Regions from separate parts of the Homo sapiens genome. Here all the other regions are reported to be linked to region 2. Evidence: microRNA targets listed by miRTarBase, many of them from high-throughput screens and not tested one by one. Region 2 holds a microRNA gene; each other region holds the end of a gene's coding sequence.

What was found. The annotated mature microRNA hsa-miR-26a-5p reads UUCAAGUAAUCCAGGAUAGGCU and lies in region 2 at 1,593-1,614, shown strand. An mRNA with a match to its seed (bases 2 to 7 or 8) in the 3' UTR can be bound and repressed. Matches are read on the target gene's strand: a 7mer-m8 pairs with bases 2 to 8, a 7mer-A1 pairs with bases 2 to 7 and ends in A, and an 8mer does both.
Region 1: the mRNA of RPS24 is a reported target of hsa-miR-26a-5p. The part of its 3' UTR that is shown has no 7-base or 8-base seed match.
Region 3: the mRNA of ACBD5 is a reported target of hsa-miR-26a-5p. Seed matches in the 3' UTR shown: 8mer at 441-448 and 7mer-A1 at 503-509.

What each region holds. Positions count from the first base shown.
Region 1 is chr10:78,039,732-78,042,731 of GRCh38, reverse strand. It overlaps RPS24 (ribosomal protein S24), which reads right to left. Exons shown (of 6, transcript NM_033022.4): 5 at 2,507-2,528; 6 at 2,035-2,117. The coding sequence ends at 2,526. Among named protein-coding and RNA genes, the nearest start is that of RPS24, 7.4 kb to the right of the region's middle. RefSeq lists enhancers at 1-101, 1,382-1,431, 1,500-2,001, 2,322-2,831, 2,832-3,000.
Region 2 is chr12:57,823,079-57,826,271 of GRCh38, reverse strand. MIR26A2 (microRNA 26a-2) reads left to right here and starts at 1,580; the gene lies at 1,580-1,663. It overlaps CTDSP2 (CTD small phosphatase 2), which reads left to right. Exons shown (of 8, transcript NM_005730.4): 6 at 1,953-2,045; 7 at 2,183-2,368; 8 at 2,545-3,193. The coding sequence ends at 2,670.
Region 3 is chr10:27,194,671-27,197,670 of GRCh38, reverse strand. ACBD5 (acyl-CoA binding domain containing 5) reads left to right here. Exons shown (of 13, transcript NM_145698.5): 13 at 229-2,457. The coding sequence ends at 241. Among named protein-coding and RNA genes, the nearest start is that of MASTL, 41 kb to the right of the region's middle.

The sequences.
Region 1 (3,000 bases), not on the chromosome of region 2:
CTGAGTTTCTCATCACTCTTCAAAGATCCCTGCTCTCTCTAAGCCACAGCTTCCCATCAGTGACAAGCTGAAGGAAGGGATGTGCTCCCTCAATATTGATTCAGCTTAGTAAAGTCAAGTTTGCATTTTATGGAGGCTCTTCCAAAGCCTGCTGACAGCACAGGGTAGCCTGGTTACTGTGAGGGCCTACAATGTGCTGAATCTGTCCACAGTTTGAGTTCCCACAAGTCCCTGCTTCCTGACAAACAATTGCTTAGCACTAGTTTCCAAACTGTTTTCACAGTTGTTACATCCTCAGCCTCAAAATAGCCTTGTGAGCCAGGGTAGCTAGCAGATACCCTTGGGAGCCCAATTTAAAAGACAAATTAACCCTAACAAGGTACCAGGTGACTTCCCCAAAAAACACTTGGATGGACTAGATGGAAGAGAAGCAGGCAGCAGGGACAGAAGACCAGAGGGCAGGTAGAGGAGGGTGTTAGCTGGCCGTAGGAGCAAAGGCTGTGGAGACCAGAGAATACCTGTCCCAACAGATGCAGCCAGCCTGGAGCCCTGCCAATTGTTATCAAACAGGAAGGTGGGCTACTACTGCTGCTTCTGGTATTTCAAGAGGCTGGAAATCCAGACCTTTACGTAAAATTTGCCAAGTTTCCAAATGTTATGCCTAACAAGGCTCACAGCAAGACTGCCACATTTTCTATAATATCACAACCCAAGTGGATCCTCTGGAAAAATAGGCCAAGCCTGAGTTTCATCCCACCTCCCTTCCCAAGGCTACTGGCTGAAAGACTACAACTTCTGCCCTGAGCACAGCTGAACAGAAAAGCCTCCCCACTTCGTGACTTTGATGCCAACCTTCAATCATTCAGGCTCTCTGCAGCTATGCCCTTTTTCTTCACATCAGAAACTATTTCCTACCCTTCAGTTCTCAATTGCTTCCTTCCACTCTCCCTGCATCAACTTAGCAACCACCCCCAGCTCCACGTCCTGTCCCATCCCATCCCATCCCATCCCTGCAGCACTGTCAGGATCCTCACCACCTTGCCTCTGCAAGCTGCTCACAGGGTGCCTTCTCTGCTTCCACACTCCAGCTCAGTCACAGGAAACTGCATCTCAAACCCCAACCTTTGCTGCCCCTAGCATTACCTTCAGCCTGGTATGCACTGTTCATCAAAAAATGTCAAATCACATCAAAGACCCCATTCTTCCACACGTTCTGTACTAGTAAGCCATTTCCTGGTCCTAGCAAAGTAGTAGCAGATTCCTTAGCAAGAGAACCTACAGGGCCAGAGGCCCCACAAACCGAAGTACACAGCCTCTGTAGATATGAAAACAGAACTCCAACCACCCCCTGGCCAGCAGGCCCAGCCCCATGACTTAACTCTTCTCAGCCCTGCCCTCCTGTCTGTAGGTGCTCCATGCAGGGGCTGTGACCATCTTTTCTCCAAAACATTCCACTACCCTTCCTTCCTGCAACCTCAACCCTTCTGCCTTCACGGTATTGCTTTTCCTGAGTCCCCTTCATGCCCAACCAAGTCTTTCAGCTCTCTACTGCTTCCTGAGATTTCTCCAGTTTATCCAGACATGGTACTTTTTAGACTCTAAGCCAGACGTGGTCGCTCATGCCAGTACTTTATGTGGCCAAGGTAGGAGGATCGCTTGAGCCCGAGTTCAATCAAGACCAGCCTAGGTAACAAAGCTAGACCCTGTCTCGAAAAAAAAAACACCTCACTGTAGCCTCGAGCTCCTGGGCTTAAGTGTAATCATCCCACCCAAACCTCCCAAAAGTGCTGATGACTGTGAGCCACTACACTGCGTCCACCGCGGACATGGTTCTTAACACAGCATTTACAAGCTTGACTCCCAGATGAACCCACCTAAGCTATAAACCAAGCAGCAAACAAACACCACCCCATGACATTAAGTTTTCACTGAATGCTTCATGGAGCATGTGAACTTGGACAGCAACTGAAATCAGCAGACTAACCTCCTAGCAGTCCCAGGAAACTGCAAATACATTTCAAACAACCAGACACATGAAGTTTTTAGTTTATTAATGTTCTTGCGAAAAATCCACAGTGGCCACAGCTAACATCATTGCAGCACCTTTACTCCTTCGGCTGTGAATCAAGAGAAAGAAGTTTAGTCAACAACTGCCTTTAAAATTCTTTAAAGTCTTCAATTCCAAAAGTAGTAACACTCATGCACAACAATTATTAGTAACCTAGAATATCAAGTTATTTTGATGTTATCATAACACAATGAAAGCATCAAGAAATAAAATTTACAAACATTCAAGTTAAGAATAAAACAAAAATAATGGGCTAAATATTGCTAAACCTTAAAAACAAAACCATGTCACTGTTAGTATTTTAAAAGGTTACAACTCTTCAGAATATTTGTAAATCTACTTCTAGATGTACTACACATGATCTGCTTTTAAATTGCTACGTCAGTACACCAAGGAGTCTAGTGATCTACATGACTACATGAAAAGCTTGAATTATACCTGTGATCCAATCTCCAGCTCACTGAATCAGTGGCGGGGAAGGGAAAAAGAGAAAGGAGGGAAAAGAAAGATTTCATTAATAGTCCCTTTTCAAACTCCAAAATAATCTGCATTTAAGTGCATGCAATCAGGTACCTTAAAGATGACCATTTTGTTCTTTGCAATTGTATACAGAGCACTCCTTCCAGACTCACTGATTTTATTCCTCCCAATTCTGACAATGCCTTGCCTGATTACTGTAGTTCTTATGCAAACGAGGTAGCCGGACTTCACAATGAAGAGATCATTAAGCCAATGTGGTACCCAGGATGGCCTTGCCCACTTGTCAATGAAGTACATACCTGAGCCTCTGCCCCTCTGCTCTGCCCAGCAACATTGTGCTGGACACACACCAGGAACAGTTACGAGAATCATTACAGATTCAAGTCTAATTTAACCTCAATGGGAGTGCTCTAAATGATCAGGCAAGTCTTTTAAAAGCTGCCTCAGTTCAA
Region 2 (3,193 bases):
TCCACCCATCTCAGGGCTTGGGTTCTGTCAGTTGATCCCTTTTCTATAACTCCAGCCTCCCCTTTTTATTGGTATCTTTCACTCAAGGCTTTCTCACCTTAAAAAAAGAGTTTCAGCCCCATATCCCACCCAGCTGTCTCCCTTGTTTTCTCTTTGCAACCAAGCTGTTTAAAAGAATAGTTTACATTTTATTTAATAATAATAATAGCTATCGTTTGTTAACCACCATCCCCTCACGTGGCCAGCACTGTTAAATGATTTATTACATTTCTCTGTTCCTTAAGAAAGGTATCTATACCTGTTAAGATACCTTAACCAGGTATCTCTTTGCCTGTAACAGGCAGGGAAATCAGTAGTAACCATTTTCTCTGCCCGGAATGCCCTCTTGCCCATGCTCCCCCTGCCACCCCCACTGTGAATAGCTAGTGACTTTCTTCCTCCCCAGCCCAGACATCTCCTCCTCTGTGAAGCCTTCTCTGACTGCCTTCCCTGGGGCCCTCCATTGGATTCTGCCTGAGGAAGTGCTCAGTGTGTGTCTGTCAATGTAAAGAGCACTCAAATCTAAACAGACCAGGCTCCAGCCTGCAGCCCAGGCAGTCCCAGGTTAAGGATCATGTGACACTGCTAGTGAAAGACCATTTACTCAGCTTGCTTGCCCAGAAGGCCTGCCATGCCCAGCGCCAGGCCCCGGTCAGGACTAGGCTTGGTCCAGCAGCCCTTTGACAGTCTAGCTGAGGGTATAGGGATGTGCTAAACCCTTGTAGAAAAGATGAAGGCATATTTTCAAACAGATATACACTGTGAACTCCTGGCTAACAAGGAAGGGTATGAATAATTTTTAAAAGGATGAGATTAAAATGAGGGAGCACTACCTGCCCAAGGTGGGTGAAAGGATGCCAGACTTGATGAAAGCTGGGATGAGGAAGGGGCTTGTTGGAGGTCGAAGGAATGGCAGGCTAACAGAAGTTAAGTTGTGGCTGCCTAGAACAGAGGGTTCCTGCAGAGCTCTGAGTGGTCTGGTGAGTTGGTGGCCAGTTCAGGCCTACTCTAGGAGGGAGAGTCACAGCAGGCCGACTCTCTTTGAGCTCGGGAGTAATGCAGGTAAAGGAGCTTTGGGAGTCAGGTGCCGTGGCTTACACCTGTCATCCCAACACTCTGGGAGGCCAAGGCAGGAGGAATGCCTGAGCCCACAAGTTCACAACCAGCCTGGCCTCACATAGCAAGACCCCATCTCTAAAAAAAATAAGTAAATAAAGAAAAGAAAAAGGACCTTTTTGGAAATGGTTCTAGTAGCAGCTGTGTAGGCTAGAGTCATGGAAGCAATAGAATGCAGACCGATGGGGGGTCAGGTGGCCAAAGGACTTCCCAAAATGTGCAAGATCGTAAGGGTGGACAAAGGTGTTAGTGGTGGCTGGCAGAAGCAAGCACAAGATCGGGTGCAGAGCAAGACTCGGCAGGGTGTCTGTCTAGTCTATGGTCATTGAGGGGAAAAAGTCACTTCTCCCTGGTGCAATTCATTACCTAATCATGACCTGGACAGACTGTCCTGTCGGAGCCAAGGACAGAAAGCTCCCATAGAGGCTGTGGCTGGATTCAAGTAATCCAGGATAGGCTGTTTCCATCTGTGAGGCCTATTCTTGATTACTTGTTTCTGGAGGCAGCTGATGGTCCGCCGCCGGAAACAGAGATGGCTCCTGGGACATGGTGTGTGCGCTTCTTCCTGAGCCAGGTTGAGGTTGGGACCACTGATCCATTGGAAGCCTGGTGAGGGGTACAGCCAGTTCTCCGGGTCTGTGGGGTCTCAGGGGGCCGCAGGCTTCCAGCCAGGTAGCCCAGGAGGCTGGGCTGCAGGGGTTGAGAGCTCCTTGCTGCTGTGTAACTGGTGAAGGTACCCAGTACTGCAAACCTTCATCACAGGGATGCCTCCAACAGGCTGCTCTGCTCTTCCTCAGGTGTATGTGCTCAAGAGGCCTTATGTGGATGAGTTCCTGAGACGCATGGGGGAACTCTTTGAATGTGTTCTCTTCACTGCCAGCCTGGCCAAGGTACCTAGGGGTGAGAGGGAAGAACCAGGAGTGGGTGTGGTGGCCACGGGGGTGGTCCAGCAGCTCCCTTTTGGTCCCTAGGGTTATACAGGAGGACCAGGAGTGTATCCAAACTAAGGCATCTTCTCTCCTCCTAGTATGCCGACCCTGTGACAGACCTGCTGGACCGGTGTGGGGTGTTCCGGGCCCGCCTATTCCGTGAGTCTTGCGTGTTCCACCAGGGCTGCTACGTCAAGGACCTCAGCCGCCTGGGGAGGGACCTGAGAAAGACCCTCATCCTGGACAACTCGCCTGCTTCTTACATATTCCACCCCGAGAATGCAGTGAGTGCTCCTGATGCGTCTCCACGGTAGGGATTGGGAGAGGAAGCAGACTGGAACTGTGGGCTCCACCAGAGAAGTACACCCCTCCAGGAAGACCCAGCCACCCTCTAGGGCTCTGGGGCGAGGGAGGGGGAAGCAGCAGTCGGGAGATTGACACCACATCTTCCCCCCACCAGGTGCCTGTGCAGTCCTGGTTTGATGACATGGCAGACACTGAGTTGCTGAACCTGATCCCAATCTTTGAGGAGCTGAGCGGAGCAGAGGACGTCTACACCAGCCTTGGGCAGCTGCGGGCCCCTTAGCCTGCCCTGCTTCCAAGCGACGGCCATCCCAGTAGGGGACTTTCCCACACTGTGCCTTTACGATCAGCGTGACAGAGTAGAAGCTGGAGTGCCTCACCACACGGCCCGGAAACAGCGGGAAGTAACTGGAAAGAGCTTTAGGACAGCTTAGATGCCGAGTGGGCGAATGCCAGACCAATGATACCCAGAGCTACCTGCCGCCAACTTGTTGAGATGTGTGTTTGACTGTGAGAGAGTGTGTGTTTGTGTGTGTGTTTTGCCATGAACTGTGGCCCCAGTGTATAGTGTTTCAGTGGGGGAGAAGCTGAAAGACCAAGACTCTTCCCAAGTTAGCTTGTCTCCTCTCCTGTCACCCTAAGAGCCACTGAGTTGTGTAGGGATGAAGACTATTGAAGACTCCATTGCCAAACCATGGCCTTTCCTCAGTGTTGTAAGGCCTATGCCAAGGATAAAGGAAGGGTATGCCTTTGGGTACTCCAGGCACACACCTTTCTGAAATCCTTCTCCAGCCAGCTGCTGCAGA
Region 3 (3,000 bases), not on the chromosome of region 2:
TTGCCCCAGTAAATAAATAAATAAATAATTTAAAACTGTTTGGTAATTTCAGCACTTGTAATTGGATCTTTCCTATCAGGCTGCAAGTCATATGATGTAGTTCTATAAAGACTGTTGGTAATATTATGGTTTTATTTTGAATTTGTATGTTATTATTATTATGTTACCATCCAGAGAATTATTTGCATTCATACTCACAGGAAATTGGTTTTTATTTTCTTTTTAAAGAAAACTGAACTGAGGAAAATGGTGTTTTCCTCAAGAAGACTACTGGAACTGGATGACCTCAGAATGAACTGGATTGTGGTGTTCACAAGAAAATCTTAGTTTGTGATGATTACATTGCTTTTTGTTGTCCAGTAGTTTAGTTTGTGTACATATATACACATATATATTTTGCACTACACAAACGATAACATTTTAAGGACTAATATTGCTGATACTTGAATAATCAATCTCTACTAGGTTATAAGTAGTATACACAGATTTACCCTGCCCTTGAACTTGAAGGACATTAAATTATTAATGATCATTTGGTAACATGTTTACCTGATTATCTTCCATAGAGTAACATAAGCTGCTTTTCAAAGGTACCATTGTGATAATGAGATCAAATTTATAAGTTATTATTTTTAATTTTCTAAATTAAATAAAAGAAAGAATGCAAACCAGGAGTGAATTTCAAATGAGATGTAATCGACTTTATATCTTAGTCACGGAGTTGCCATGGCATGTAGTAGAAAACCACAGGAAGAATGGTCATATTCACTTTGTGGGCTGCCCATAATCTTTCTTGGGCATTCACAACTCTTGAGTTTGGTGTTCAGGCATCATTATTAAAAAGTGGAGTCCTATGTACCAGACTGAGTTTTTACAAATGATTTGCAGGCTAGACATAACCCACTGATGGAAATGGTGAAGAATGAGCTTCATGTAGGTTTAAAAGTGTATTCTGAGCCTGTAGATGATTAATCAGGTTTTTATTCAATCATATAAATGTATTCCTTTGTAATCATTTTTGTTTAACTGAGGATATCTAGTGTCTGCTTCATAGGGTGCTTTGAAATATAAAATGAAAACTTATTTATACTGTTTTTACAACAGTCAAAAAGGAAACACACGAAAATCACTTTTCTGCAACTGATGAACTATATAGACTGGACTCTTAACCTCTTAGTGCCTCAGTTTTTCCTTCGGGGTATACTATTTTAGATACACCTACTTCACAGGAGTACTGGAGGGATTTGCAAGCTAACGGGCCAAATGCTTCCATAGGAATAAGGCATGCCCAGCTAACAGAAATTTAAGTCCCTCTTCCCCACCTCTCTCATCTAGACCAAAAAGAAGACTACAATTTAGATCCTTGGAGACTTTTCCTGTATGCCTTCCAAAACTTCCTGCTCACTTAGATGTACCTTGTGCTTTGAAGATTTCTTTGATGCAGTCTTTGTAACAAATAATTTTTTTTTTTAAATGGAGTTTCTCTCTTGTTGCCCAGGCTGGAGGGCAATGGCGTGATCTTGGCTCACTGCAACTTCCACCTCCTGGGTTCAAGTGATTCTCCTGCCTCACTCCCAAGTAGCTGGGATTACAGGCATGCACCACCATGCCTGGCTAATTTTGTATTTTTAGTAGAGACGGGGTTTCTCCATGTTGGTAAGGCTGATCTCAAACTCCCAACCTCAGGTGATCTGCCTGCCTCGGCCTCCCAAAGTGCTGGGATTAGAGGCGTGAGCCACTGCACCTGGCCTGTAGCAAATAATTTTTAAGCATTCTCAAGATGTATGATGTTGGGTTTAACATCATATGTTCACAGTGTTTTAAATAAGAAATAATCTGTCTTTAGTATACAGAATGGTTCTTTGTTTGCCTGAAAAGTATAAGAATACAATTTACTTTTCCCAAACTCTTTTTCCTTATTTTTTTCTTTCAAATAACTTTAATTATTTAATCCCATACTGATTAAAATATGTCTGTCTAAAGGGATCTACTACTATTTGCTTTTAAAAAAGTGTTCCCTATTTATTTAGGAAAAAGTGAAGCAAGCAACTGAATTTATATGTAAAAATAACATTTAGACCTGTGGATCAAAGATTATTTTCAAAAATGAGATATCAATTTGGTATCAGTAAAAAGTGTCTTTTCTCTTAGTATATAAATAAATAAAATGCAAATTAAGAGTGTAAGCAGTTGTGAATCATTACAAGCAGTCTGGGATAACTAACTCCTAGGGATAACCATTTCTATCCTGTTCCAAAGTCTTATTTTATAGTTTGAAAAGCACTTTGCACACAGTTCTTGTATATAAAAGTAAAGATGTAATTATAGGATATAGTGTTCCTGCTTTGTTTAATAAGAACCTCATTTAAACTTGACAGCTATGGTATTTTTTTAATGATAACTTCTTTTCTGTTTATTGTAAAACTAAGTTAAAAATAAAAGGTTAATGAGAAATGATATGGCTTTTATTACTTGTTACTATTAGCCCATTGATTAGGTAAGAATTCAATGAGAGTAAGTAGTAGTCGCACATAAAGTAATTATGACTCTCAAAATAAAGCCATGCTATTCCACACAATTTGATAAAAATCAGAAACTGGGATGAAATTTAACTTATTTAGTCATCTGGTTGAGAATATTAGCAATCCAGTCAGATTCTTGGTTTTACTTTTTTTTGAGACAGAGTCTCGCTCTGTTGCCAGGCTAGAGTGCAGTGGCGTGATCTCGGCTCACTGCAACCTCCGCCTCTCAGGTTCAAGCGATTCTCCTGCCTCAGCCTCCCGAGTAGCTGGGAGTACAGGCACGTGCCACCACTCCCGGCTAATTTTTGTATTTTTAGTAGAGACGGGGTTTCACCACGTTGGCCAGGATGGTTTCCATCTCTTGACCTCGTGATCTACCCGCCTCGGCCTCCCAAAGTGCTGGGATGACAGGCGTGAGCCACTGCACCCAGCCGGTTTCAGTTCTTACACCAAATAAATAGCTTCCCACAGCCACACA